4 linked regions of the Homo sapiens genome follow. The protein of the gene in region 4 interacts with the protein of the main gene of each other region in a pairwise test. Each region holds a gene or a part of one and is shown on either strand. Other genes may lie near its edges. The genes, in order: ZDHHC1, MYOCD, PID1 and GOPC.

Evidence for each region.
Region 1: the proteins of GOPC (region 4) and ZDHHC1 interact in binary tests that used the Homo sapiens proteins (3 or more experiments, as listed by UniProt).
Region 2: the proteins of GOPC (region 4) and MYOCD interact in binary tests that used the Homo sapiens proteins (3 or more experiments, as listed by UniProt).
Region 3: the proteins of GOPC (region 4) and PID1 interact in binary tests that used the Homo sapiens proteins (3 or more experiments, as listed by UniProt).

The regions. Positions count from the first base shown.
Region 1 is NC_000016.10:67,393,644-67,399,497, forward strand, and holds the end of ZDHHC1 (palmitoyltransferase ZDHHC1), read right to left. Parts: intron 5,814-5,854; coding exon 5,712-5,813; intron 5,302-5,711; coding exon 5,177-5,301; intron 5,089-5,176; coding exon 4,930-5,088; intron 4,682-4,929; coding exon 4,569-4,681; intron 1,924-4,568; coding exon 1,841-1,923; intron 1,638-1,840; coding exon 1,544-1,637; coding exon of another isoform or gene 1,420-1,543; coding exon 1,359-1,419; intron 1,251-1,358; coding exon 967-1,250; 3' UTR 509-966; downstream 1-508. UniProt on the Homo sapiens protein: Palmitoyltransferase that catalyzes the addition of palmitate onto various protein substrates, such as NCDN and NLRP3. Has a palmitoyltransferase activity toward NCDN and regulates NCDN association with endosome membranes through this palmitoylation.
Region 2 is NC_000017.11:12,668,867-12,675,894, reverse strand, and holds part of MYOCD (myocardin), read right to left. Parts: intron 4,034-7,028; exon of another isoform or gene 3,704-4,033; intron 1-3,703. UniProt on the Homo sapiens protein: Smooth muscle cells (SM) and cardiac muscle cells-specific transcriptional factor which uses the canonical single or multiple CArG boxes DNA sequence. Acts as a cofactor of serum response factor (SRF) with the potential to modulate SRF-target genes.
Region 3 is NC_000002.12:229,268,274-229,275,921, forward strand, and holds the start of PID1 (PTB-containing, cubilin and LRP1-interacting protein), read right to left. Parts: upstream 3,015-7,648; 5' UTR 2,771-3,014; coding exon 2,741-2,770; intron 2,370-2,740; exon of another isoform or gene 1-2,369. UniProt on the Homo sapiens protein: Increases proliferation of preadipocytes without affecting adipocytic differentiation.
Region 4 is NC_000006.12:117,599,496-117,606,453, forward strand, and holds the start of GOPC (Golgi-associated PDZ and coiled-coil motif-containing protein), read right to left. Parts: upstream 3,017-6,958; 5' UTR 2,794-3,016; coding exon 2,509-2,793; intron 1-2,508.

The sequences.
Region 1 (5,854 bases), on a different chromosome or scaffold from region 4:
CGGGAGCCGCATCCCGCCCCTCCCCCGCAACTCCGCGGTCCTCGCGACGGCGAGACCAGCGCTCTGCAGTTCGGGGCGTCTTCGGACGGCCCCCTGAGGAAACAGCCTCCCATCCTGGGATGTGCCTAAAGCTCTAAGCGGCCCCAATCTCCAGAAGAGATCCAGCTCCCCAGAGAGTCAACCAGAGGCCACTGGGGAGCTGCGCGGGGCATTGGTGGGGCTTGGGGAATCGGGAAGGAGCTCTCCCTCAGTGACAGGGGTATACGGTTGACTCAAGAGCACTGCCATCCACTGAACGGATGGCACCCCCAGGCCACAACTCCCGTGCTCTCTTGGGTAGGATTCAGAGCCTGGAGCAGTGGGGAAGAAGGGAGGGGACTCCCTACGAGCGAATCGCGCTCGCCCAGCCCCAGGATGCTGGCATTCGACGGCAGCCCTGCTGCCGGGGAAAAGCTGCGGGACCTCCTGGCTCGGCCCCCTCCTTTCGCCGCCACCTCCCCACGGCCTCGCAGCCTCAGCGCCCACTGCTGCTTTCGGAGCCCAAAGCCTGCTTTCTCTCGGCCTCCCAGTGCAAAGCCCATCTTTAAGAAAAATAACCTCCTCCAGGCCGCCTTCTAAGGCCTTTCCTAACCACGAGCCGCACGTGAGCACCTCCACAGGGCAGCCTGGGTGGCTACCTACTATACAGGGACCTCCTCCCCGCCCCCGGTCCACTGGCCAGGGTCGGGCTTCTGGATGGCCCGTGGCCCCTGCCATTAAGAAAGTAAGCGCGACGTCCGCAAAAGCATAAAAAAGTTTATTGGAGCATCACAGCCGGTGGGGCGGGTATTGCTGAGTCGTGGGGGAGGGAGGCCGATCCCGCCGGCCGTAGGGGCCCCTAAAGTGCACTCGGTGCGGCAAGGATGGGGTGTTGCATAGAGAGTCAGGCCGGCCGCTCTAACTCGGCCCTCCGGCCTCTCGGCCCAGCTAAGCCAGACCAGCCTCCCGGCCGCCCGGCGCCCTGGGCTCGCCGCTGCTCGGGCTCACGAAAACGGCGGGCGCACGCGCCTGCCGCGCCAGCGTGGGCTGTCGGCCCCGGCCCCGCGGGGCGGCCAGAGCGGCGCTGCCCAGGCGCGTCTGCGCCACTGGAATCTCGTCCACGGACTCTGCCGACGCCGAGTGGTAGGCGCCGGCAGGGCCAGCGGCGTGCACAGGGCTGGCGTCCGCGGAATCCGTCGACGAGCTGGAGCGGCGGCTGGGGGCCCTAGGCCCTGCGCAAGGGAAGGGAACATGAGCCCAGTGGCTGCGGCTCGCTTGTGGCTCTGCCTTCCCCTCCCTCGAGTTCCCAGAGCAGGACCCGGACAGGGAGAGGCGCTCACCCGACGCCGGATCCGAGGTCTCAGACGTTCGCACTTTATACACGCGCCTCTTCCTCTTTTTCTGCAGAGACACGGGGGAGCCTGAGGGCCCCACATCGCCAAAAGAAGCAGAGGCGAGCGCCAGGGTAGAGGCTTCTTTCTATCCCACTCCACCTGGACCGGAGGCCCAGCACAGTCCCTCCTACCTGGGGTCGGATCCGGGGAGGCAGGGCGAGAGTGTCTGGGGAAGAGGGTGGTGGAGGTTCCGCTTGGCCACGGGTGGCAAGAAACTGGGAGGGACTGAGGGGGAAGCAGGAGGGTAAGCCTGGGGCCTGTTCCCCAAATCCCTCCCCACTGGAGGTGCTGAGAGAAGCTTCCCTTCCTGTTAGCTCAGAGAAGGGCCTGACCCATGCCCCGACCTTAGCCTACCCCCTTCTCCTGCCTCGATGGCCCTGCCATGCTAACTGGAGATGCCCAGTGGCACATGCCCAGGTTGCACTCACTTGGCATTCACTGCTGCTGGCCCGGCCTGGCCAGGGGGCTCTGGGCGCATATGTCTGAAGGTCCGCATGTAGAACTCCATCTCCTGGGGAAGGTGGAAGTCAAGGAGGCTGGGAGGCCAGGTGTGGCTCCCGAGCCTGCTGAGCCCTAAGCCCACGCAGTCCTGCCCTCATTGGCCTCTGTGGGATATCTCAGGCCTCATGCCAGGCTCCCAGCCATGCTGGGAAAACCCCATCTGTAGGGTAAGGCTTAAAACACCCATTTCTGGCCCTTGCCCCATCCCCAGGTCCTTACCTCATCTATTCAGCCTCTGCCTCCTGCAGGAAGGCTCCCAGCCCCCATGGGTCTATAGGCCCAGTTTAGAGAGGCTCAGCCAGGGAGTGGTGGGAAGCTCAGAGCTGCCCGCACCTGCTCCTGGTGTCCCCAGGGATCCAGCCTCTGAACCAATTGTTTTCCCCTGGCTGAGAAACAGGCCTGAGTGTGCATCCACCAGCTCCCGCAGAGCTGAGTCCTGGGCACACCCCTCGCCCTCACAGAGGACCAGCCACGATCCAGGCTGCCGAGAAGGGGCTGCGTAAATGCACATGCGGTGGTCTCCCTGCCACTACACCAAAAGGGAAGGTAGCAGGTGGTGGAACAAACAGAGCCGCAGCCCCACTGAGCACCAGGCTTATGGGCAAGCCCTGATCTTCACAGCAACCCTGAGGGTGCAGACGCGACCCCTGAGAGCAAAGGGGCCTTGAGGCCAGGGGGTTGCAGGAGTGGCCTAGTCCTGCACCCCCGCCCGCAGGACTCGCCCCAGCTTTGCCCAGAAGGACTCCAGGTGAGGAAACAAAAGCCTGGGGAAAGCAGGCCCGGGAAGGGCGTGGTGCGAGATGGGGGCGGGTCCCGGGCGGGGTGGGAGCCGGGAGGGGTTGCCGGGAGCACCCGGACAGCTGTCGCCAGTTCAGCAGCCGTTTCCATGGAGACGGAGGCGTCCTGACTAATGCAGAGAGGACACTGTAACAGCAAGGCCGTCTCTAAAACAAGCCTATGTTTGGGGGCAACGGCTCCAGAGAGGGGCCCCTCCCGCATTCCTGCTGGGGTGGGGGTGGGTGGCTGCCTGCAGGGCCCTGACAGATCTGGGGGAGGAGCCCAGCCAGCGGCCCCGCCCAACCTCTGCCCTGGCTGCTGCTCTGGAGAGGGGTGTGGGGGCGCCAGCCTGGGCCGAGGAGCGCGGGGTCAGGGGTCAGAGGCCAGTCACAGGGACTGGAAACCTCAAGATCACTCTCCCCCACACCTCTTTTCTGCCCCAGTGTGGACTCAGTGACCCTCTAGGGCCAGCAGAGGGGCAAAGCCCACTGGGGGGCCCTGGGCTCCAGAGGGGGGAGCAGAGGAGGGGCCAGCAGTAGAGGAGGTCTCAGAAGCTGAGGGGCCTGGATGGGAAAGGCGCCAGGCCCTAGCCAGCTCAAGAAGTCTGAAAGCGTCCCCAGTGAGTCCCCACTCAGAGCCCTGTCCTCTCTCGCCATGGCTGTCCAGAGGATACTGTCTCAGAGACCTTCAAAACCGTGTACATTCCTGAATGGTACTGGGCCCTCAGCCTCAGCTCTCTGCTTTGTAAAAGAGGACAAGAACACCACTCCTGTCCCCCGGGTTTGCCTCCCTCAAGTCACTGCAGATGGACAGAACAGAAATTAAATGTCTTCGCTGTGGCCACATTTGGCCCCAAAGCCTTGGCAGCGCAGGGCCAAAGAGCCCGCCCTGCTTCAGTGGGTGCTGCCTATGAGGCTTGAGAAAGTCTCCTGCCTACTTCTCTGGGCCTCCGTCTCCTCTTGATGTGGGGCTGGAAACAGTACCCTCTCCCCAGCACAGCTGCCACCATCAGAGCCCAGCACTGGGGCAGGTATACGGTGGTGTAACAGTGGAGTCGCCACCCACAGCCAGCATGCCCCAGGCCCAGGCCTGCCCAGTCCTGGCAGCCTGGCCCACAAGTAGTGTCCAGCCCTGGTGACAAGAACAGAAGAGGTGGGGTCCTAGGCCCTCCCCAACCCACCCACCAGCCTCTGTTTGTGTCCAGTTGCCATGAGGCCTCGGGATCCAGGGCTCAGCCTTCCCCCAGCAAAGCCTGCCCGGGCCCCGCCTTCCTAGTCCCTAGGGGCTCCTTTGACGACTGGATCACCCCCACCCCAGCGGCTGACCTCAGGAAGCCATGGGGCGTGGGAATGGGGATAGGCTGGTCAGCCACTGGCCTGGCCAGGCCGGCCAGAGCGTAGAGACCTTAACTCTTCCCAGACCCAGCTTGTGGTTAACCTTCTAGGCCTCAGTAGGCACATCTGCAGAAGAGGCTGTTCTAAGCATAAATTAGGGTAATGGGTATAAGCGCTCAAGGTCATGGATGAGGAGAAGTGATGGCTCCATCCTGGCCACCCATCACTGACCCCGTCGCTGGTCCATCCCTCTCTCTCCTGCTGCAGCCCCAACCTGCTTGCTTCCAGGCTCCCACATCCCATGCCCTCCCGCGCATGCTTGGCGCCTGGGCAGGTGTGTACGTGGGGTCCGGGAAACACAGGGCTCCCTCTGGCTGTGCCCACGCTTGGGCGAGCAGGCACACGCTCAGCACAAGCCCGGTCCCTGCTGCCCCCAGCGGCTGTTCCAGGCTTGCCTCCCTTGCCCTGTCTCCTCACTGGCTGCTCGCTGCACAGCCCAACACCCCCCACACCCAGGCCCCCTCCCACCCTTCATCCTCTATACCTGAATGGGCCGCATCTTGGGAGGACATGACTCGAGCTCCCTGTGAACCCCCTTGGCCTCCTGTGGTGGGCGGTGCTGCACGATGTACTCATAGGTGGTGAGCTTGTGCCACACTGGTGGGGGGAGGAGAGGGCTCAGTGCGGTGGAAGGGGGACTCTGGAGCTCAGAACAGGAGGGAGGACAACCAGCCCCAGGCTGAAACCAGTGTCCCCAAATACACGAAGCCATCAGGTGAGACCTGGCCACCATAGTGAGCCCATACTAGGCAGGGGCATGGTTTCAGGGTCCACCGTCCAACTGGGCACCTTCCTGCAATCTGAGGACCCCTGCGTTCCAGAAGGCAGGTGCAGGAGGCACTTACTGAGATAAATGTGGAAGCAGAGCAGGTGCCCCAGGAGGGCTGTGGACAGGAGGCCCAGAAGGATGAGCAGGGCGGCCAGGGCCAGGATGGCAGGGGCCTGGGTCTCCACGGGGGCGGCAGGCAGGAACACGAACCACACATCCGTGTGATTCTTCAGGACTGCAAGGCACAGGCAGTGTGTGCTCAGCCGGGGACGTGACGGGTGACCAGGGTTGGGGGTGAGAATAGGCCCGGAGCCTAAACTGACCTTCAAAGTGTCGGTTGGTGCGCAGACGCATGGGGTTGACAAAGAACTCCACGAAGACATATGTGGCCACCAGCACCAGGAGCAGGACGCCCAGTAAAGCGGATGCAACACTGTGTAGAAAGAGCCTGGGCCCAGCCATGGGTCGCTGTCAGCTCCCCGGAGCTCCAGCCTCAGAAGGCCCATAGGAGTTGGGGCTGTAGGGTCATTGCTATGGGCTCAGAGGGCTGAGGGTGACCCCACAGCCCCAACTCCTCAGAAGCCAAAGGCATACGGCAAAACTGAAGATGGGTGGCCACCCCATCAGGCAGCCCACATTTCTCTGGGCCAGCTTGGTGGAAGATTCCAGGCCCACCCTTGGCCATCTCAGCCGGCACCCAGGAGCATCACTCTCTCTGGGCAGCACCCCCGCATAAAACGGGCACAGGTCCTCGAAGCATCCCCATCCCCGCCCGCCTGCCATGCGAGCTGCAAGGTCTGTGGCTCCCACCCTCAGACAGTGCATCCCCAGGCCCGCGTGCGGCCGGGCTGTCCTCACCGGTAGTTCCGCTCGCCCACACAGTTGTTGAGCCACTTGCAGTGGTGGTCGAAACCGCACACGCACTTGTTGCAGGCGCTGCAGTGCTTGGAGCGAGCGCTCCTGCAGGGAGAGGGGGCACAGCGCGATTGGCCGGCTCATTC
Region 2 (7,028 bases), on a different chromosome or scaffold from region 4:
ATATATAAATATGATTGATTGATTGATTGATTGATTGAGACGGAGTCTTGCTCTGTCACCCAGGCTGGAGTGCAGTGGCGTGATCTCGTCTCACTGCAACCTCCGCCTCCTGGGTTCAAGCGATTCTCCTGCCTCAGCCTTCCAGGTAGCTGGGACTACAGGCTTGCGCCACCAGTGCCAGGCTAATTTTTTGTATTTTTAGTAGGGACGGGTTTTCACCCTGTTAGCCAGGATGGTCTCGATCCCCTGACCTCGTGATCCACCCATCTCGGCCTCCCAAATTGCTGGGATTACAGGTGTGAGCCACCGTGCCTGGCCAATACTTTTTAAAAAACATAAATGAAAATATGTTGCCGGATTGTTTTATAACCTGAATTTTAAAAAATTAATTCTACGTTTTGGAGATCTTTTCACATCAGTTCATATAGAATTTTATCATTTCTTTTTGCTTTGCATTGTGTTTTATTGTATTCTATACTGTGAATATATTGTAATTTAATGAATCGTTCCCTTACAGATGATGTTTATGCTGTTTCCATCTTTTTTAGGTTAGGCATTATAAACTGTGATAAAATTGTATCTGTTAAGACTTTACAGTATGGATAGCTCACCAACACGATAGGTGTATCTATGTCTTCATGCCTATTCAATACTCGATATTATCAACATTTTAAAATTTTGCTAATTTGAAGTTTTTAAAAAATAGTATCTAGATCTTTCACTTTGCATTTTCTTGAACGCTAGTGAGTTGAGTATATTTCATATGCTGACTGATTATTTTCTCCCTTGAATTGTCTTTCCCTTAGGTTGTTTGCTTTAAATCTTATTGTTCATATAAGTCCTTTTAATAATTTTGTCTCACGTATATTTTCAAGTATTTTTTTCAATCTACAGTTTGATTTTAAATTTATTTTGATGATTTTTTAATGTGGAGTTTTAAAGTGTTTAAGTGACCAAATATGTCCATTTTTATTTCTAACCTGGCCATGGCCATAAGCTTGGGAAGGCTTGTCCTACACTGAGATGAAAAGATTATTCTCCTCTGTTTTCTTCAAATATTTTATAGGTTTCCTTAGCTCTTTAATCCATACGGAATTTATTTTAAGGTATATCATAAAATATCTCAATTTACTTATTTCCAAAGAGATAGTCAATTTTCTCAACAAACCCATTACATATTTTATTGTAGATAAACAGTGGACAGCCACTGTTATCAGAGGTTAAATCTATGCGTATATACATAAGTGTATATATGTGTATGCATGCACATATACACAATTCTCATCCACTGATAATAATTGTCTGTTTTACTTCTGGTACTAACTCCTAGATATTTCTTATATAACTATGTTTAATGTCTTAGAGCAAATCTCTTCTTCTTGTTGCCTTTCAAAAATTTCTTAATTTTTTTTTCTCAAATAAACTGAAGTTTAAAAAGTCAAGTTTTATTAAAACCCCTGGGACTTTGTAGGAATGGCATGTGTAATTTATAGGTTAAGTACTAGAAACAACTAGTTTGATAAATCACTATTTAGGAAATCAAGGACGATAGCAGTAATTGGATATATGCCTGGAGTTGTAGCCCAGAAAGAGGCACATTAAATCTACTGGGTCAGGTATGTGTGTATGGTTATGCGGTGGGGCAGGGAAAGAAGGAAAGGAGCTGCAGGTTATAATAGAGATAATCATCATGGGACAGTGGAACAAATACGTTCATACCTGGCCTCCAAGTTGTCTAACATCTTTGAGCCTCAGCTTCTTCATCTCTAAGATAGGAATAATCACATTTTTGTAAGGATTAAATGAGATGATAAAGGTGCCCACAGATAATAGGTTCAGTAACTCCTAGTCCTCTTCTCTTCCCTTTTGATGAGGCATGAGTCATATTTGGTAACACGTGGTCCCTAAATAGCAGACCACATGGAAGTTTCCAAAGGCATTAGGCAACTGTTACTCATTTTCCTTTTCAATCTCTACTGAAAAGGTATGAAAGGCTCATCAGATACCAGCCACCATTGGGTAAGTACCCAAGGTTACTCTGAGTTAGTTGTACAGTAGGGACAAGCATTCATCGCCAAATAGAAATAGGCCTAAAGTTAAGTTTGTTACATTGTAAGTGCTCCAAAAACACTAGCCATCATTACAGCTCATAAATATTCAAATCCATTATTCCCACACTTAGGCATTTACTCTAAATAATGAGTAGCCTACAAAACAATCCAAAGGGAGGAAAATATTTTCTTTCTTTACATGAAGGATTTCACAGTAGTGTTATGCATACAGATTTTCATAGTAGTGTTATTTATAATATAAAGATTATAACTGGCTTAATTTTCCAATACAAGTGGAAAAGGTTTAGTAAATTACTATATACTCACTTGGGGGAATATTATACAGTCTTTAAAGCAAAAACTATGTTGCTATGTAGCCGCTTGAAAAATATTTATGCTATTATACTAACGATAAAAAGGCTGAGTATAAACTTATGTATATACTCTGATTATCACGTTGTAAAAATCTTTATGCAACTGGACCAGGACAGAAAGAGAACACAAATGACAAAAAATATAATGTATTGAGGAGAACTATTGAACTATTGTTCAATTAATGTTGAACAGCATTTTCTGGATTTAACTTTTTTGAAATCATTTTTTAGAAGCTCCAGACAGGGCAGTAAGTCTCAAATAAATAACAGAAAGTTCCTTGTGGAACTTTACCTAGGACTGAAAAACCAGCCCAACCAGTCAGCAGAAAACAAGATTGGCTTCCTAAGGAGAGTGTTTCCGGAAATAGAAAAGGCAGAATAGTTTATGGGGTATTTTCTAGTCATTTCACATCATCTGTGAAATGAGGATATTGCCTGGAGTTATTTGACCATATTTTATGAGAAACAACTAATTTGATGCTTTCGTACCACTTAAGAGGCCAAGGGGAAGGAGATACAAGTTGAGAAGGGAAAACTTACTCAATGCAGTAGTTCAAACTGAGGTGTCAGAAGGGATTGCTGATAAAGACATACTAAGTATTTGAGGGTCTGTGTATCCATTAATCATTGCTGCACAAACCAAGTGAGAGCTAGGAGAACCCAATACATACATCTCACAATATTACAGTGGCTTAATTCACTTTGAATTCAATTTCTTCTCTAGTGATCTAAAGTAGCTGAATACAGCAAACATCCATGAGTCAGAGGGATTGTACTCATAAGAGAAGTACCCCAATAGTGAAAAGAAAGAACTTATCTTCCCTCACCAGCAGGAGAAAAGAAAGACATTATTCTCCCTTCATTTTGCTATGCTCTGGAAAAACAAAAGTCACAAAACAGTTTTATTTATTCTAAATTTCTGGGGATAAATGATACATTTTATTTTAACAAAAATTGGACACCTCTTTCTGTTTTATCTAAGAATAATGATCCAAATCTCGTTACGTAAAGCTTGACAGCTTGACTTACTAGCTATTCTGAAACATATAAGCATTATCTGCCTAATAAAATAGAAATTCAAAGTACTAACGTCGTAAGGCTGCAAAACTATTATTGGGCTAATGGTCATGGTTGTTGTTATTAATCCTATTTGTGTTCATCGAAAACTTTTAACTACTCCACGCATAAGCAAGAACTCTTATGCAACTCACATGCCACCAGATCCAGTTATCCATTTCCACACAGTGAATAAAGGTTCACTAATTTCCTTCTTTTCAGAAAGAAACCCTTAATAATTCTACAAAGATCTTTCCCTCATAGAAGTATGAGGATGTGAAGACCATGAGTCATTTTACCAATATGGAAACAGAGGCCCAGAGAGCCCTGGGAATATAAACATATTCCCAAGACCACGGAGTCCCAGATGGGCTCCCACTGTGACTTGGCCCACAGGACAGAAGGAATGGAACCAGGAAAGCAGAGACCTGTGAAATGCACCTGCTGGCTCCTCCCCCTTGATCTGGACAGAGATGTGGGGTACCTGTTCACCATTCATTAGATGCTCGGGAAGCCTTGCTAATTAGATGAAAATAAAGGAAATGAAAAGCAGCCTGTTCTAGCATCTCCTATTCAGGTTTGGCTTTTTTGAAGCATGTAAAATTCTAACCCTGGGTGGAGTATTTTGCTTCTGCCCTGCACTTCTGTTATTCTTCAATTTAATCCAATTAGAGTAGAGCACATTCAATCTGGTTCAAGCCAACTTGACACAATCTTGCTAACTGTTTCTGTCACATGCTGTAGCAGATAAAAGACAAATGCCACTCTTCCTGGTCTTAAAGAATTTATATGTTTTTAAAAAAGTATCCTGGGTACACAGAATTGAATTAATCACAATCCTTGGTTCATGACACTGTCACACTATCGTCATTGAGCCATAGATGACCTTTGTTTAATTAATTTGCTTAATAACACATGGACACAACTACTGCCTAACCTAAGAACAATAGGGATAACCTGCTTCTTACCTTTCGGCTACACCCCTACCTCCTTATTTAGCCTCTCCCACTGTGCTATGACTTTGACTTTTGTATTTATAGTCACTCCTCTCCTTTTTGTTCTAGTTTTAGTACACACAAACGCACATCTAACAATAAACCTATATTGCTTGTTTTTGATGTTTTTGAATAGACTTTAGAGGAAGAATAAAACCTATTTATTCAACATATATTTAATGGGTTCCTTCTCTGTGCCAAGCATAGATGATATGAAATGACTGGAAAATACCCTATAAACTATGTTAGGTGCTAGAGAATAAAGACAGTAAAAACCAAACACGAATAAACAAGTAATAATTTCTGCCGTTATGGACAAATAATAAGCAAATAAACAAGTAAAAGGTTTAGTCTGTCCAATAGTGATAAGAGCTATGAATAAAACTAGGGCAGGGAAGGTGGGGGTTGGGGTTCTTGCTATAGTGATTAAGATGGTGAGGGAAGGGCATGGGAGCTGTGAGTGAATCGAATACAGCTGGACTTGAGGAGACAGGAATGGTCTCAAGCAGGTGGCTTGAGCCAGACCCCAAATGTTCCTTTAACTTTTACATTCCATGTAGAAATTAAAATATGTTCATTTTTTAAGGTCCATTAAATTGTATTCTCATATGTAATGCTTTGATCAAGCATTTACAAAAATATTTAGGGCCATTCCCTTGGAAAAGTATTGAATCTTAGGGCTAAAAGCAACTTGAAATAGAAACCAGTCAAAACCCTCTATTTTGTAGAAAGTAAAAATGAGATCTAAAAAGGTGAATTAAATTATATGTACATACATAAATATTACATATCATGGGAAAGGTACTCTTGTAGGTTAAATTATTTGTTCTAAACTAGAAAACTAATTGCCAATGAAGGTAGATAGTCTGGGCTTCTCTCGAGCTCATGGTGAAAATGTCTTCAGTACTGTCCATTATGATAAAAATCTTGGGGACCGACTTCTTAGGCTAAGCTCAATTCCTGAGAGAGAAAATTCAGTGCCAGAGATGTTGAGGATTTAGCTTAAAGTAGGAATCAGTCGTCCTTTTAGGTTGTCTGAAGGATGGAGAATAGAGAAACGACAGAGAGAGATGACTGCAGGGTCTTGCTGAGATGTCCCTTGCCCTCTCTGAAAGGACAAGCAACCAATTACAGGCACCAGGGGCCTGATCCTGCATCTATTGGAGTAGAAGAACACAGTGGGGTGGGTCCCACTACCTGAATTCAGCCACAGCCTCTTGAGTACCTGCTTTGCATGTTCTTTGCCTTCTTTTAACTACAGCTCCAACCTCTGGAGCCTCTGCTGCTTGAGCACCGGCCTGCCTGCTGAGCTTATCTTCCTCCTTGCCAGACGACCAGAGACCAGAGGTGAAGCTCCCATGTTCTTCCTCACCCATAAGCTGGCTGTACTCTGGGGGACCTAGGGTTCATTCTCATGGTACCCCCACCCCATCTGGAGTTTTCTGCTTTCATGCCTAAAGTACAAGTTTTGCATTTTGGGGAGTCCTTGGGGACCCAGAGAATCTCAAGAGCTTGATAGGATATTGGATGGGGCAGCAGAAAGTGTTGATCAAAAACCACTCGGATTGGTCAAGAGATCGAGACCATCCTGGCCAACATGGTGAAACCCTGTCTCTACTAAAAATACAAAAAATTAGCCGGGCGTGGTAGCGGGCACCTGTAGTCCCAGCTACTCAGGAGGCTGAGGCAGGAGAATGGCGTGAACCCCAGAGGCGGAGCTTGCAGTGAGCCGAGATCGTGACACTGCACTCCAGCCTGGGCAACAGAGCGAGACTCCGTCTCAGAAAAAAAAAACAACAAAAAACACTCAGATTGTAGGTAGGGTTGCCAAAAAGAATAACAGGGCCTAGTGAAATTTGGATTTCAGAGAAAAGTATGTCCCAAGTACTGCTATATAGTGAAAAAGTAATCACTATTGCTTGGAAATTCACATTGAACTGAGCATTCTGTATTTTTATTTGCTAAACTGAACAAGGTTATATTTGTGGGGGTGGGGTCAAGTTCATGGCAATTGCCAGACTTTGCCTCTGTTTGCGCGGTTTAAGATGGGGAAGTGGGAAAGAGAGAGAGAGAAGCAAAAGAAACACAATGATTCTTTAGAAGCAACATCCATTCATGGATCTCTCTCTCCACTTTTGATCCTTTATGTCTGAGGGCTGTGTGTGCCTGTGTGTGGCACACATACGTACCTCCCTGTGTGTTTTGTAGGACACAAGGATTGATATGGAGGAGAACTGTTGATAGTGACACTGATTAGATATTGAATAAACAACATGAGAAGATTAAAAACTGTAAAAATGTGATTAGTTTAAAATCAGCACAAATTACTACATTCATGTAAAACTGCCTCTCCTTCACACACAATTGCCACACAGCACAATCACAGTTACACTTGTTCCCAGTCAATCTTTATGTGTTTTCAGAGAATGATAAAATGTTACCAAAGGGGTCTAAGACATTGCCTAATCCAACCTCAACATTTACCGATTAAATAACTGAGACAGAGAAACTGACCAACCGCCGGTCCCACTGCACATCAATATTAATAATAG
Region 3 (7,648 bases), on a different chromosome or scaffold from region 4:
GTAACAATAATGATAATCAAACCTGATCAAAGATGCCATTTCCTGAGCAACGGAGCCAGTTGCTACACTCAAAAGTCCATTATTTAGAGGGTGACTGTTCTACGCAAAGATCTATCACACTCCCCTGGGACACAGACTTCTCAAACCAGCTTCATCGAATATGAACTATATCATCAAGAAAGGGTCTGGTTATTTTCTTCCATCCCCTCTTTTGATTCTAGGTATTGATAAAATAAATTGACTCCTTAGTCCTATTAGGAAGTTCTGGGAATGTTTCCTTGACGAATTTTCTTCACTCTGGCTCATCTAAATTAGAATGTTTGTATTAAAGATAAATGAGAAAAAAATTAATGAGGTCGAATGAGAAGGTTTATAAAGATTTGTGAAAGGCACATGGAGCTCAGACATCATTAAAGAGCAGAACTCATTCTCAAGTTTCCTATCCAGCATGATATCCACTGCTATCTCTGTGGCCACAGAGCCTGGGAGTGGCAAAGTGGCTTCTCACTGAGGAATCGGACAGGCATGTTTCTATATCACGGTGAAAGGAAAAGAAAAGGAAAAAACCCCAGACAGCAAACAGAGATTGTGACAAAGATAACCACAAGGAATGTAAATAAAATATGATAAGCAGCTCACTCACCATCTCATCCTCAACAGCTCTCTCAGAGGCAAAAGTAAAAACATATAAATTATGTGTTTTCAAGGAGAGTCAAGCAATACTCTTTGGGAAGAAGCCACGGATATAAAAAAATTTTTCCGCATTTGTCTCACTTCTCTAATCTCAAGGCTTGAGATGTATGTACTTTCAAAAGAGACTCATCGAAATTTGGGCAGCATGAAGTTGAGCCCCCTGTTGGTAAGGACCTTCCAACAGTGACTCGGTCTTATTGGTGATAAGCCCTGTTTATATGAGCTTTCAAAAGCCTAAAAACAGGTTCTTTCAACATGACACCTTGAAATAAAATAAACGCATTGCAAACACCAACTGCAATAAACCAGGCTCACGCCAAAATGCACACGTGCACATTTCACAAAATAAGGGGGAGACATTTCTAGTGAGGAGCAATCTCTATGGGAAGGCAAGCGAGAGCGCCCACCTGCCAAGGGTCACATGCTCCAGAGCGCACAGGATTCCCTAAGTGAAACAGGCCGGTAGGAAGAACTTGAATAGTCAAAAATCTACAAACTCTTCAGAGGTACAGATCATCAGGCCATAAAAGCCACCTCAAGGAATTTTGGTCACATCTCTCTAAGGACTTCCAAAAGCTACCCTCTGCACTTGAACAGGAAACCTGCCAGCTCCCCTCAATCATTCTGCTCCTTTGGAATAGAAGTTACGCCTTTAACCGAAGGAGAACTTCAAATGCGCCACTGGTATCTGGTGCCACTGCCAAAATATATTTACATCACCTTCTATCAGTCATTCAGAGCCCAGTGCTGATATTCTCTTAGTAAGACAAGGAGGGGGTTAGGAGGTTGGTCATCCACCTCCTCATCTGCAAGGCTAAATGCAGGTTTTCTTGTTTATTCTACTTGAGACCCTGGGGAACTGGTCTGGTGTCTCAGGCTCTGATAAATTGAACACACTCCCCGCAAATCATGGCCCAGGGAGCTTTGGAAAGGAGCTGTGGGGCATCTGTTTCTGCTAAATGCAATGCCCTCTGCGGGTTGTTCCTCTGTATGAGGACTCCTAGACAAAGGTTAGCCTCTCCCTGCATCTGAGAAACTGTGCTTGGGGCTGTAAATGTTCATTGAGAAGCCTCCAACCTAGCCAGGGCCTGGCCTCATTGTCCTAAGTCTTCAGATGCACTCAGCCTCCAATGGTGCTGTATTTTACCAGTTAAACACGTCTTCAAAGTTTACTACGAAACAATGTGGCTCCTAGCTTGCCAAAAGTTTAACTGCAGGATTCAGTGGATTTTATCTGGCAGAGTAGCTGCCGTGACTCTTGACAATATTTGCCAGCAAAAGGCAGTCCTCAAACCTTGCAACCAGGGCAATCCCAAGGCCCAACGTGTCACTGAAGGAGTTCTTCTGGGAAAGGTCCCTCTTTCTCTTCAATCGCCTCCCGCAAATCCCCAGCTTCCAGAATCCAATTCAAGGCAGTCTGGCATTTCAGGAGACAGCAGTAAAAAACTTTTGATGGGATAACCCAGGACATAAATATTCCTGGCTGAACCTACTTTTGATTCTTAAATATCTGAAGGAGCTTGGGTTTAAGGAAGATAAAGGGAGAGAACCAATGAATAGGGAAAAATAAAATAAGTAGCATACCATGACCAAGCCAAACCAAGCTTGATATTTCCACATTATATTGGCAAATGGATGCTTTCACATATCACTTGTTCTGTCTTTCCTGGTGACCACAAAAAAAAAAAAAAAAAAAAAAAAATCTGGCTTCAAAAATCCTAACCCCAGACCACTGCATTGTGTCAGTGGAATGCAATCTAAATTGCCAGTCAGAAAGTCCAACCTTATATGTACCAACCAACACGCACACAAGCACCTCCAAGCCAAAAGTTGTAACGCCTGAACCCGTGCGTTTATCAATTTCATCATCCCCATACCCCTGCCGGGTTCCTGGCGCTGGGTAAACCGACAGCATCATGTTGCCATCGATGCGTCTTACAAGATGGTTTTGGGCAAATCCCCTAAAGTAGGCAGAAGCAAAAACTAGGTTCCTCTGCCCGGGCACCTCCTCCTCCAGGCTGGCCCCCGGCTCCCGGGTGCCCCTTACCTGCAGGCGCTCCGTGGCCGGCTGCCACATCTTCCAGCCCTGGGTTTTGGCAGAGGAGACGCTGGCGAGACTGTCGATCGCGCCGGGGGGCGAGGGGCTGGGGTCCCGCTTTACATCTGGGGTCGGTGTCCGCGGGATGTGCGTCCTGGCGCTGGCCACCGCCGCCGGGTGGGCGTAGGGGGCTGCGAGCAGGAGGAGGCGCGGCGCTCAGCTGCCGGCAACTTGTGGGCACGGCCGCGCGCCGGCTGTCCTGGCGCAGCTGCGAGAGGACTGCGCAGCTCCGCCCGGGCCCGGCGAGCGCGCGGCGGCGGCGGGGGCGGCCGCTCCCTCCTCCCCCGCCGCCGCCGCCCGGACCTGCGCGCTCTGAGCATGCCCGGGGCGGGCGCCCAGGGGCCGCGCGGGGCGGGAGTGCAGCGCGGCCGACTCTAAATCCTAGTGAGGGGTGAATGGGGAGGCTAGAACAGCCGGCCCTTCCCTGCAGGAAGCCCCCATTGGGTTGGGGTCTGGGAAAAGGGACAGACTGGCTGAGGGGGGAAGGGCCTGGAGCCGGGGGTGGTGGGGGCAGCGGGGATGTCGGGGGTGGCGGGGGTGGGGGAAATTCCTAAAATAAGGAAACCGTAGCCCCGGGGGTCCCGGGTTTCCATATAACAGGCATCTCTGAAGTGCCTGTGCTGTGCCTGGCGCTGTGCTAGGGAGACACTTCCATTCATTCTTCCCACTCCAGTTAACTGAGCATCTATTAGGCTCCAGCCCCTATGCTGGGTTCTGAGGATGCAGCGACGCAGAATAGAAGACAAGAGAATGTTCCTTCTCTCTGGAGCTTACCTTCTGCTTTGGAGAGAGAGTCGTGACTGAGCAAACACATCAACAAGCCGGTGCTATATCGGGTGGTGATAAAACAGGGCAGATGTGGGAAGAAGGGGAGAGGAGAGCTTCTTAGACAAGGGCCCTGGGGAATGCCTGGAGTAAGACCTGAGAGATGAGAGGGATTGGCCACGAAGAGGCCATGCTTCATGATGGGGAGAGGACTCGACTCCTAACCTATACAGGGGTGAGGAGGGCCATGCAGACTCCCGAATCACTAACTCATCCTGAGATCTGCCAGGTGCAGCAGGAGGCTCTCAGAACCCAAGGGAAAGCCGCTCTGGGCTCGCAGGCCTGGAGGCTCCCCGGCTAGTGCCGGCCACCATGAGATGACTTCCTGTCCTAAACAGGCCAGCCCTTCCCATTCTCTTGACAACTCGGCAAAATAACTATTAATATTTTCACCATGTGGATCAAACAAATGAGGCTTATAAGGTTTAGGTCACTTGTCCAGGTCACACAGCCAGTGAGTGGCTTAGAGAGTGCACAGTCAGATGACTTCAGGGCAGGAGATGTGGCCCTGCGCCTCTAACTGACCATGGAAACCCAGTGGAAAGAGCATCCGTCTAGGGCTGGGGGTTAAAGGCACTTGGCAAGTCAGGGATACTAAGCTGATTCTCGAGCTGATGAAGAGTGGGAGAGGAGAACATGGTGGGAAGAACTCAGGACATAGAATGACCAAAGAGAGGAGCAGAGAGAACACAATGTTTGTGGGGAGCCCTAGGCTCCTACAAGGCAGGGTCCTGAGAGCAGAGGGGTGTGAAAGAGAGGCATTTCATACTGAGACAGCTGCACAGCTTGGGCCGTGAGCTACTCATGCAATGTCAAAATCCACACTCCATGTCTGGAAGGAGGATCTGTCCATTTTCCTTGTTCTGCATGACTACAATGATTTCCAGATATGGAACCACTCCAGAATCTAACCCTCAGCTCATCGGACCCTCGCAGCAACTCTCCGTGGGACAGAAGCCCCTATCTCCCAAGGCTTGGGGAGCACAGGGTTCACAGAGTCACACTGTGGGGAGTTACAATGGCGATTCAGATCCAGGATTCCAGGCAGATCCTTCTGGACCCTGCGGTTGCTATGTTGGTGCCACCAGCCTTGGCAAGCCCAGGACCCTCAGTGCCTCTAGGAGCCTCTGGCAAAGCCACAGAGCTGCCTCTGAAGAGCTTGTCTCTGTCTCCCTGGATATCCACAGGACCCTCCCACTCCTGCCTGATAACCACCTGAACCTTCTCAGCTCCTTCTCCAGTTCCTGCTACTTGTTCTGAACTTATTAATAAATCTCTTTTCATGAGGTGTTTGCCTGTCAGCCCGCACAGACATGTGCCTCACATGCTTGGTGATATGGTCTCTGTTTGCTTTTCCGGTAACTCCTCCTGCACACCTCCACACCTACAAAATTCCTTATGACCTTCCCAGCCCCCAGTTCTCTTTTATCAAATCCCAAAGTAGAAAGAAATGCAATTCATTACAAAAATCTAGAAAATCCAGACATGCATATAAACCCCACCCCCCAACCCCCCCAGGAAGCTAAAACAGGAATATTCAGTTGCCAGGGATGTCTTCAGACTTAAGCTCTGAAACCATCCTTGCTTGCAGATGCTTCCGTGGAAAAGTGATTTTGTTTTAAATAGCAGTGGAATGAGTTAACGGCCTAAATTCAAATCGCATTAGAGCGTTAAATCCTGTCTTCTCACCTCCAAACGTAATTAATTGTTATGACTCAGTAATACAGCTTTTAGTACGGAGTATGGTGCTATTTAAAGAGAAAAAGCTTTGGCTCTGTAAAGATTGCTTTCAGTTACCGTTCCCACTTTGCAAACAGATTTGGTAAAGTAAAGAATGTATTTAAACTCAAATGGCACTCCTGTTTCAATTACCTTTATGCCACGAATCAGGAAGCTAGGGGAGGGGGTGGAGGAGGGGCAATTGCAGGCTTGTGGGAGGTGACAAAAGGATGGGACAACCTCCCACTCATAGATTTTGCTCCCAAGTCTTCCCATTCAGGAGGAGCCTGCAATGAAGGGTGAATGAAATAGAGACATCTGCTGGCTAGAGATGAGACCTGCATGCCAATGTCTCCCAGCTCTGTTCTGTGACATTGGAACCTCATCCTTCCTGGTGAATCTGAAAATGCTGCCTTACGATGTAAACAGGTTTGTTCTGAGCAAGAAACCACCCTTAAAATGAGCAGAAGGTGTTTTGGTGCAATGAGTAGAAATATTAGGCATGTAAATGTGTGCCTAATTTCATGTACTTAGTCTCCTGCAATTACCGAAACAGGTCTAATCTTGTCAATAAATACCATTTGAAGGCAAATGACAGAAATCAAAAAAGCTTGACAAGGCACAGATGCGTTATTCACACATTTGGTTCAGAAAAATAATTACAGCATCCCTAGAAATTGTGTTAAGCCAGATTTGATCTAGTTCATGGTTCTGAGCCCTAGCATAAGCAACCTCAATGTCCAAGTCAGAGTAATGGTGAATGAAAGTATGGTCCAGCATATCAAAGAAATATTAAAATATTATGCAGCATTTAAAAGGATAATTATAAAGTTGTGTTGCAGCTGAAAATGATACAATTATGGTTTTTAAAGTAGGATAAAATGTATATAATTTGAATATATGTATAAAATATTTATCAATCTCAGTAAATGTTGGAAAGGAGCTAGGACAAGCAGAAGACTCAGGTTGAATCCCAGCCTTCGAACTGTCTACCTAGGTATCAGCTTTTCACAAGTCATTTGCCTTGCTGAACCTCAGATTTCTCTTCTATAAAATGGGTGATAATATTACTTAATACTTAGGATTTTGGGGAGGAGTGAATGAATTAATATGTGCAGCATGCCTGACACATGGTAGGTGTGTGGGAAACATTCGTTTTCATCCCCATTATGTTTCTTTCTCTTTTTATTATTGGAATGATCCAATTCTCACAAAGCGGCCCATGCTTCTTGTGGTTACACTATTTCCATTTGGAATATTTGTGGGTTTCAATTATTTGCTTTAGATTCTCAAATAAAAATGACAAAGGATATTCAAGCTCACTTACGATTCTTTTTTCTTTTTTGAGATGGGATCTCACGCTATCGCCCAGGCTGGAGTGCAGTGGCGCGATCTCGGCTCACTGCAACCTCAACCTCCCAGACTCAAAGCAATCCTTCCACCTCAGCCTCCTGAATAGCTGGGACTACAGGTTTGTGCCACCACACCCAGCTAATTAAAAAAAAAATTTATGGAGATAGAGTATTGCTGTGTTTCCCAGGCTCCCTGGGCTAAAGTAATTCACTTGCCTTGGCCTCCCAGAACGCTAGGATTACAGGCATGAGCCACCATACCTGGCCCACTTACAATTCTAACTTAAGCAGATGACAGCAAAATTTATTATGGTTGTGTATTTAGCAGAATTATCATTAAAAAGCCCTTGTTATGGTATCACTAACCTTATTTCAAAATCACCAAAACAGCTGTATATAAATGAGCAATATAAAAAAGTCTGAAAATTCATTCGACCATTTAAACCTCCCAGTAGTGACAGAACCACTGGCTTTCGTCCCTACAGAGTGATAGGAATGTATTGGGATGTTAAGATGACGCTTAACAGGGTAGGACTGGCTCATTCGTGTGTTGTGACTCTCCTACTCTTGACTCCTCATATCCTCACAAACCTTAGACACCTGATAGATTATTTTCAGAAATGCCCACAAAAATCTCCCCTCCCCAAGGAAGTCATGCCCATTTGCACTGTAACTTGCCTGCTTCTCTCATCATGAGATGCAATCTGTCCACATTCCTTGAATCTGTGCTGGACTTGTGGCATACTTGACCAATAAAATGCAGCAGATGTGACACTGTGGAACTTCTGAGCTTGGGCCACAAAACACTTTGCAGCTTCTGCTCTCACCCTTTTGGAACATAAGTCATCCTATGAAGGAGCCTGGACTAGACTCCTCAAGATGAGAACAACACAGAGGGAGGTCAGACCATGAGTTAGCACCCACAGCCAGATATGTGAGTAAGGTCATCTCATAACACCCA
Region 4 (6,958 bases):
TAAAAACGGCAGAAGCTGCTAAACGTGTACAGATTAACATCAAAGACAAACAAGTTGACTGTAACTGAAAAAACACAAACAAATGAACAAACAAACCAAAATCATTAGGATTTTTCCCCTCCCCATTTTCCTATGATCTTTAAATCAACAGTTTCAAGCATAAAAAATATGCTCACATTGTGATATGCTAGCATTTCCTATTTTGAGAAACAATGCAACCTCCTAAACCAGGACATAAAGTCAGAATGTGTGATTTTAATTTCTGAAAAAAGAACATGCATAATTTATTACAATTCTGAATACTCATCTAAAATATTTAAAGACAAAAAAAATGGAGCACAGCCTCCTACTGAGAAAATTATCCTTCCTCCCAATTTCAATTTTTATATCTGACATCAAATCCCTGTTTAAAGTTTCCTTAGGTCATTTTAAAAATAAATAAAATATTGTTTCATTTTTAAAAAGTTGTTAATGCCCAGTTGATACTGCAGTTGTAAATGATATGAAATTTCTCGTGTGATGTTTTAGTCCACTTTCTGTTTCTTATAACAGAATACCAGAAACTAGGTAATTTATAAAGAAAAGGAATGTATTTCTTACAGTTATGGAGACAGAGAAGTCCAAGGTCGAGGGGCCAGATCTCGAGAAGTCGAGAGCCTTCTTGCTGGCAGGGGATCTGTGCAGAGTATGGAGGCAGCATAGGGTGTCACATGGCAAGGAGGCTGAGCATGCTAACATGCTTACTCAGGTCTTTCTTCCTCTTCTTATAAACCACCAGTTCTACACTCCTATGATAACTCATTCATCCATTTATCCAATAACAAATCAATCTATAAGTGGATTAATCCATTCATAAGAACAGAGTACTCATGATCCAGTCTCCTCTTAAAGGCCCCACATTGGAGATTCAATACTGTCACATTGAGGATTAAGTTTCCCATACACGAAATTTGGGGGACACATTCGAATTATACCATGTGGTAAAGGCTACTCTTGATCTTTGTTGTTTAAAGCTAGAGAACTAATGGCCAGGCACAGTAGCTCATGTCTGTAATCAAAGCACTTTGGGAGGCCAAGGCAGGAGGATCACCTGAGGCCAGGAATTCAAGACCAAACTGGGCAACAAAGCACTCCATCTCTTTTTTGAAAAAAATATAATAAGATAAAATAAGATGAAATAAAGTTAAAGTACTATTTCTAGAAAACATTAAATGCAATTTCACTATCTGAGAAAAATAGCTTTCTTGTGGAAATTACTACCAATAAAGAAATCAAGAGATGTTTTCATTTACCTACAGTAAGAAGTGATTACCTTCATATTAGCACTTTCTAATCTTTTCAAAAAGGATAGAAGAAATTAACAGTTCTCGCAGTGGAGAAGAGCCACAATTCTTGGATATGTAAATCTATGTTAATCAAAGATTAATTATGCCACATATTTCATGGCTAATAGGAGAGAAAGAATGCTGACCACTAGGCAAGGAGAGGATGTTTAACTGACATTCATATTGATATAGATATAATGGGCACTGTCAATGACAACGAGTAATGATGATTTCTTAGGAAAGCATGTTCAGAGTTTTGCACATCACTGATTATCCCATTTTTATCTATTACACTTTTTGAAAAGAAAGACCCATTCTCTTAAATTGCCTAGTTAGAAAGTACTCTTTATGCAATAATGTTAATCTATCTTGATTTCTAAATATTTTAATAATGTCCTTTTTAAATTTTCTGCACAATATGATATTTTTGTTTTTTTGAACCACAGCCACTCCACCCTCACCCACACCCAGGATCAGAGATTAAAGCAAATGATTCTTTACACTCTCTCAAAAATAAATCCAGACTTTGGAAAATTACACAGTAATGTACAAGCATATAAAAACTCAAGGTCAGAAGTAATTTCAATAATTGCAGGGAGCTCTCTGGAGGTATCTGCCTGTAATTTAACAACCAACTATGGATGTAAACCGAGACAGTGATACTATCGTTATGCACCACGAAATTTTCCTAAGAGCTTTGATCAGATTCCCCTAAATAGTTTATGCATGTCTCTGTATGCAATCATAGGCGCTGACCTGGAATAATTAAAATGAAAATAATCAGTGCTGTATCTGTCTTAACATATACAAATTCGGTTTATCAATGTGAAAGCAGATCTGCAAAACTCAGTTGTCAAAAGGTGGCCTACGGTATTTTCATGACAGAGAATCTTTGTTAGGTTTGTTAATGTAACATGTGCAATGGAGGCTGGTGTATGTAATTAGTTTCCTCCTCAGAGAGATACTAGGAAGGTGGACGACAGTACCCCGGGAACTCACACGTCGGTCTAGGGCCCTTTTTGTCCCCCACCCTCACCTCACTCCTCAGACATGCACTCTCCCATCACATTTGAAGCCCCGGTGGGCAGTTTTCTAGGGTCGTTTCACTGGAGCGTTAAATGGCATCTGACGCCACCGGGCAGCCTGGGGTTGGATGCCATAGCCGCCAGCACCCACGGCTCACCTCCAGCTTGTGGTTGATTTGAGACACAGACTGGGCTTTGTGGCAAAGCTGTGCAAAGCAGGAGCTCAGGCTGGTCATCTTCTGTCGCCCCTCATAAGTGATGTCCGCTTGGTCTGGATCGATCTCTCCCAGGAGCAGATCCACATCCACAAAAGCTTTGTCGAACTCCTTCTCCAGCACCTCCAGCCACCGGAACATGGATACCCCGCCAGGGGCCCCCACGGAGCAGGAGGCGCCCCCTGGGCCCCCTCCGGCTGCTGCTGGGCATGGACCGCCCGCCGACATGGCGCCGTCAAGGGCCTCTCCCGACTGCTGAAGACCCTCGCCGCCCCCCGCGCACGAAGGGAACTGCTGGGACTGAGGGGACCCCCGCGCGCGCGGGCACACTCCGTCACCTCCCTTCACCTCGCGCCGTTAACGCCAGCAGCACAGTCACAGAACCGCAGGAGTAACGAGGCTGAAGCTGAGGCGGCAACGGCGGCGACACACGGAAGACTCAGTCAGTCCCACCTCCCAGCCTGCCCCCGCTGCGCATGCGTAGCGAAGAGCTGGGCGGACGCAGCCACGAGGGACAAAATAGGCGGGGACAGGATGCGATCTTGGCCTATGAAAGGCCTCAGCTTGGGAGCGGCCTGTCAGCGGCCATATTAACAACTGGCAAACTACGGCTTGAATCCCTGAGAAACGGAGGCGCGTGGTTTCTGCACCCTGGTTGGAAAGGCCCGAGGATGAGAAAGGTGTCCACGTCGCAGAAAGGAAGGATTTCCGCCGGTTTGACTTAACAGTTGGCGGGAGCCGTTCCAAAATCCTCCCAGAAAGTTGCTGCGGTGGCATCTAGGGTCAGGGAGGGGAGAGCAAGGAAGGGCGGTGTGAGCATGCGCAATAGCCACGTTTTTACCTTCTCGATTCCAGTTCCTGGATAGGATGGAGTGGGTGTACACACTGGCTGTTCTTGGTAAACCAGACCCCAAATTCCAGGTGTGGACTGCCTAAAGCTGCGCATTGAAGCGGCTGACCAGATTTTGCGGAATTAATAGAAGACTTTTTGTCTTGTGATTAAGAGTCAGGTAGACCTGGATTCAATTCTTACCCTCTGTCACATACTACCTGTGTCGCCTTTCATGTATTAACCTCGAAACCAAGTTTCCAAATTTTACTTAACTCAGTTGTAAGGTAAAACGCTTAGCGTCACTTCTTGGCACACGGTATTCCTCTTAATACACCATAGGTCACACATTTCAAAAGCAACTACAGTAGTGCTTCACTTAAGATGGGGATATGTTCTTAGGAATGTGTCCTTAGGTTAATCATCCCTTAGGGAACATCCTAGAGTGTATTTAAACACAAACCTAGATAGTATAGCCTACTACACACCCAGGCTATATGATGTAGCCTATTGCTCTTAGGCTGTAAACCTGTACAGCATGTTGCCATTCTGGATACGGTAGGCGATTATAACACAGTGGTAACTATTTGTGTACTTAAACATATCTAAACATAGAAAAGGTACAGTCATATACTCTTATAGGATCACCATAGTTTATGCGATCCATTCATTGCTGAAGCCTTGTTATTTGGCACATAACTGTACTTTAAAAGGTGTATTTATTTGAAAACTGGTAGTGTCCTCACACGTGACATTTCAGAAAATCAAAATTGTGAATTCATATATTTACAAATATATTGAATGCAGAGCTCTGTTGCGACATTGAAGACACAAAAATGAATGAGACATGACCCTTACTCAAGATAGGCTAGTGAGGCTACTACCCCTCAACTATAACTTTAACTTGAATTTTTCAGTGCCTTTAAAAGTATCCAGCAACTCCTCTCTTTACATTCTGCCTACTTCCAGTTCAAGGGTAGACAGTCCTAGAAAGGGAAAGAGAAACCTGTGTGATTAGAGTAGGCTGGTGGAAACTCCTGCATTACCTAGAAGCATATTTAGCTGAGTGCAGTCTGCTGTTATCTGTTCTTGGGGCAGACCCTTACGGTTAATCACAACCCAAAGCCTGCATTGTGTGCCCTTCGCTGATGCAAGGCAACTGAGGAGCAAGAAATCACAATTTTATTATTGCAGTCTTTGTACTGCATGGCAGACTGGTTAGCATGAAGCAATAAAGTCCTTTGGCTTGAGCAAACTTAGCTAATCAAAATGGATCATGAGATCCTGACCTTAGACTTAAGTAGGGACCTTCATACAGGTTTTAGTACACAATAAATAATGTAAAACTAAAATTTACATCTTTCCCCATTCCCTTCCAAAATTAGCTTTATTTTCATCTACAATATTTGCAAAAACATTGCTACAGCTATCAAGCTCCCAGCCACTTTATCTACACATAATACAGTTAGCAATGCATTTTCAGGAACGCGAAGTAAATAATTTAAAATTAGCAGGGCAGGGGGAGAATACATCGAACCACAATTATAATAGCTTTCAATTATTGAGTCCTTACTATGTGTTAGGCATTATGCTATTTTCTTTAATTCTTTGATCCTTACAAAATCCTATGAGGTAGGTATGATCACGTCTTTTATTGTTGTTGTTGAGACAGGATCTTGCTCTGTCGCCCATGCTGCAGTGCAGTGGCACGATCACAGCTCACTGCAGCCTCACTTTGTTGACCAGGCTGGTCTGGAACTCCTGGACTCAAACAATCCTCCTGCTTAGGCCTCCAAAAGTGCTGGGATTACAGGTGTGAGCCACCACACCCAGTAATCACTTTTTAACAGCTAAAGTCACAGACAGCTTAAGTGTCTTGGTAAGGTCACAAAACTAGAAAGAGATTGAGGTAGTATATCAATCTAGGTGTCTTTTTCTCCTAAGTTGTTGCTGTTAACCATGTAATACAGAAGAATGAAGGAATCTATTTCTTCTTGTAAAAGTTAGCAGTATAATAAACTAGCAAGTAAGTTCCAAAAGTTCTTTTTAATTTCTTCCTAGTTAGAAACCATATACAAATCTATTAACATATAAGAACCATTACCAAAAATTGTAATAACTCATTTTCTATTACTTGTAACTCTAATTTATATGAACCACACTTGAGTATAAATTTCATTTCTTTAAAAAATCAACTTCCAGCTACATTGTGTGGGTGCAGCTGAGTGACATTTTAAGTGTTTATATGTTTCCAGTGCTCTAATGGTTTGTGGGTACCCCCATTTTCGAGATTGCAGAACCCAGCTTCGTATCTATTACCTTTACAACTTCAACAAGTCATAGACTCATCTGTGTCTCAGACGAGTTTCATGTCATGTTGTCCCTTCTCATTACTGTAGTATGTAGACATAATCTTTTGCCCACCTGGATTGAGGTTATGCAAATCTGCAAGTCACAGCAGAACATGGATGTGAAAAGGAGGGCTTATCATCGGGGCTTGATGTTCAAGTGCTGCCATCTGTTGTCGGTGTACTCTATCTACACTTACTGCCTTATCCTTACCTACTCTGGAATTGGAGATTGCATGTAATGTCAATACTTGAGCGATTTGTTTTTCCACAGATATTAAAGTCTTGATACTTCTATTTGCAGTTGGATTGGCAGAAGCTTCCAATAACTGTTTTATGAATCATGCTTATGTGATTTTTAAAAAATATAACTTAAATGTGACACTCTTGTTTTAGGAACTTATCCCTACAGAGTTTTGTCACAAGGCATTACTAAAAATAAATTGGTTGGAGACTGAGGAAATTGGGGAAAGAGAGATGATGCTAAGGGTTTCTTTGATAGGTACTGGTAATTAACTGCGGGGTCAGTGTATAGTTTAAATATTTATGGAGCATCATTGATTGCAAGGGCACTGTAATAAAAGGGTGTATAAGACCCACCTTGGACTGGAGAGGGAGATTATCACTTATTGAACTCTACTGTGTTCCAGGCCCTGTACCTAACTTCACGTGTTTCATTTAGTTTCCAGTAACCCTACCAAGAGAAGGGGTTAAGTATATGCTGTTAGTGGCTATAACAAGTTGTATGTATGGTGAATGAAGAAAGTAAAAATCCACTAGCATTTTATTTAATCAATGTAGGAAAGGTTTGGAGTGTTGTATTCATACATATTATTTATATTTATTGAATTTATTATTCATATTACCAACAGTTTTGAAAATTTCAGATACATATGCTAAAGAAGTAAGTTTAGGAATCCAAAGGGATTTATTAGCCTTATTCTCCTGATTATTTCCCTTATATAAACAAAGGGATCTGGGTGTGGCGGTGTGCACCTGTAGTCACAACTACTTGAGAGGCTGAGGTGGGAGGATTTCTTGAATCTAGGAGTTTGAGACCCTCCTGGGCAACATAATGAGATCATGTCTCAAAAACAAACAAAAAACAGGACAACTGTTTGCTCTCTTGTTTTTAAAACTTGAGAATTTTGGTACAGTGATTTAGAATTAGCTCAGACACCTCCTCTTCCAGGAAGCCTTCCTTCTTTCTCCTCAT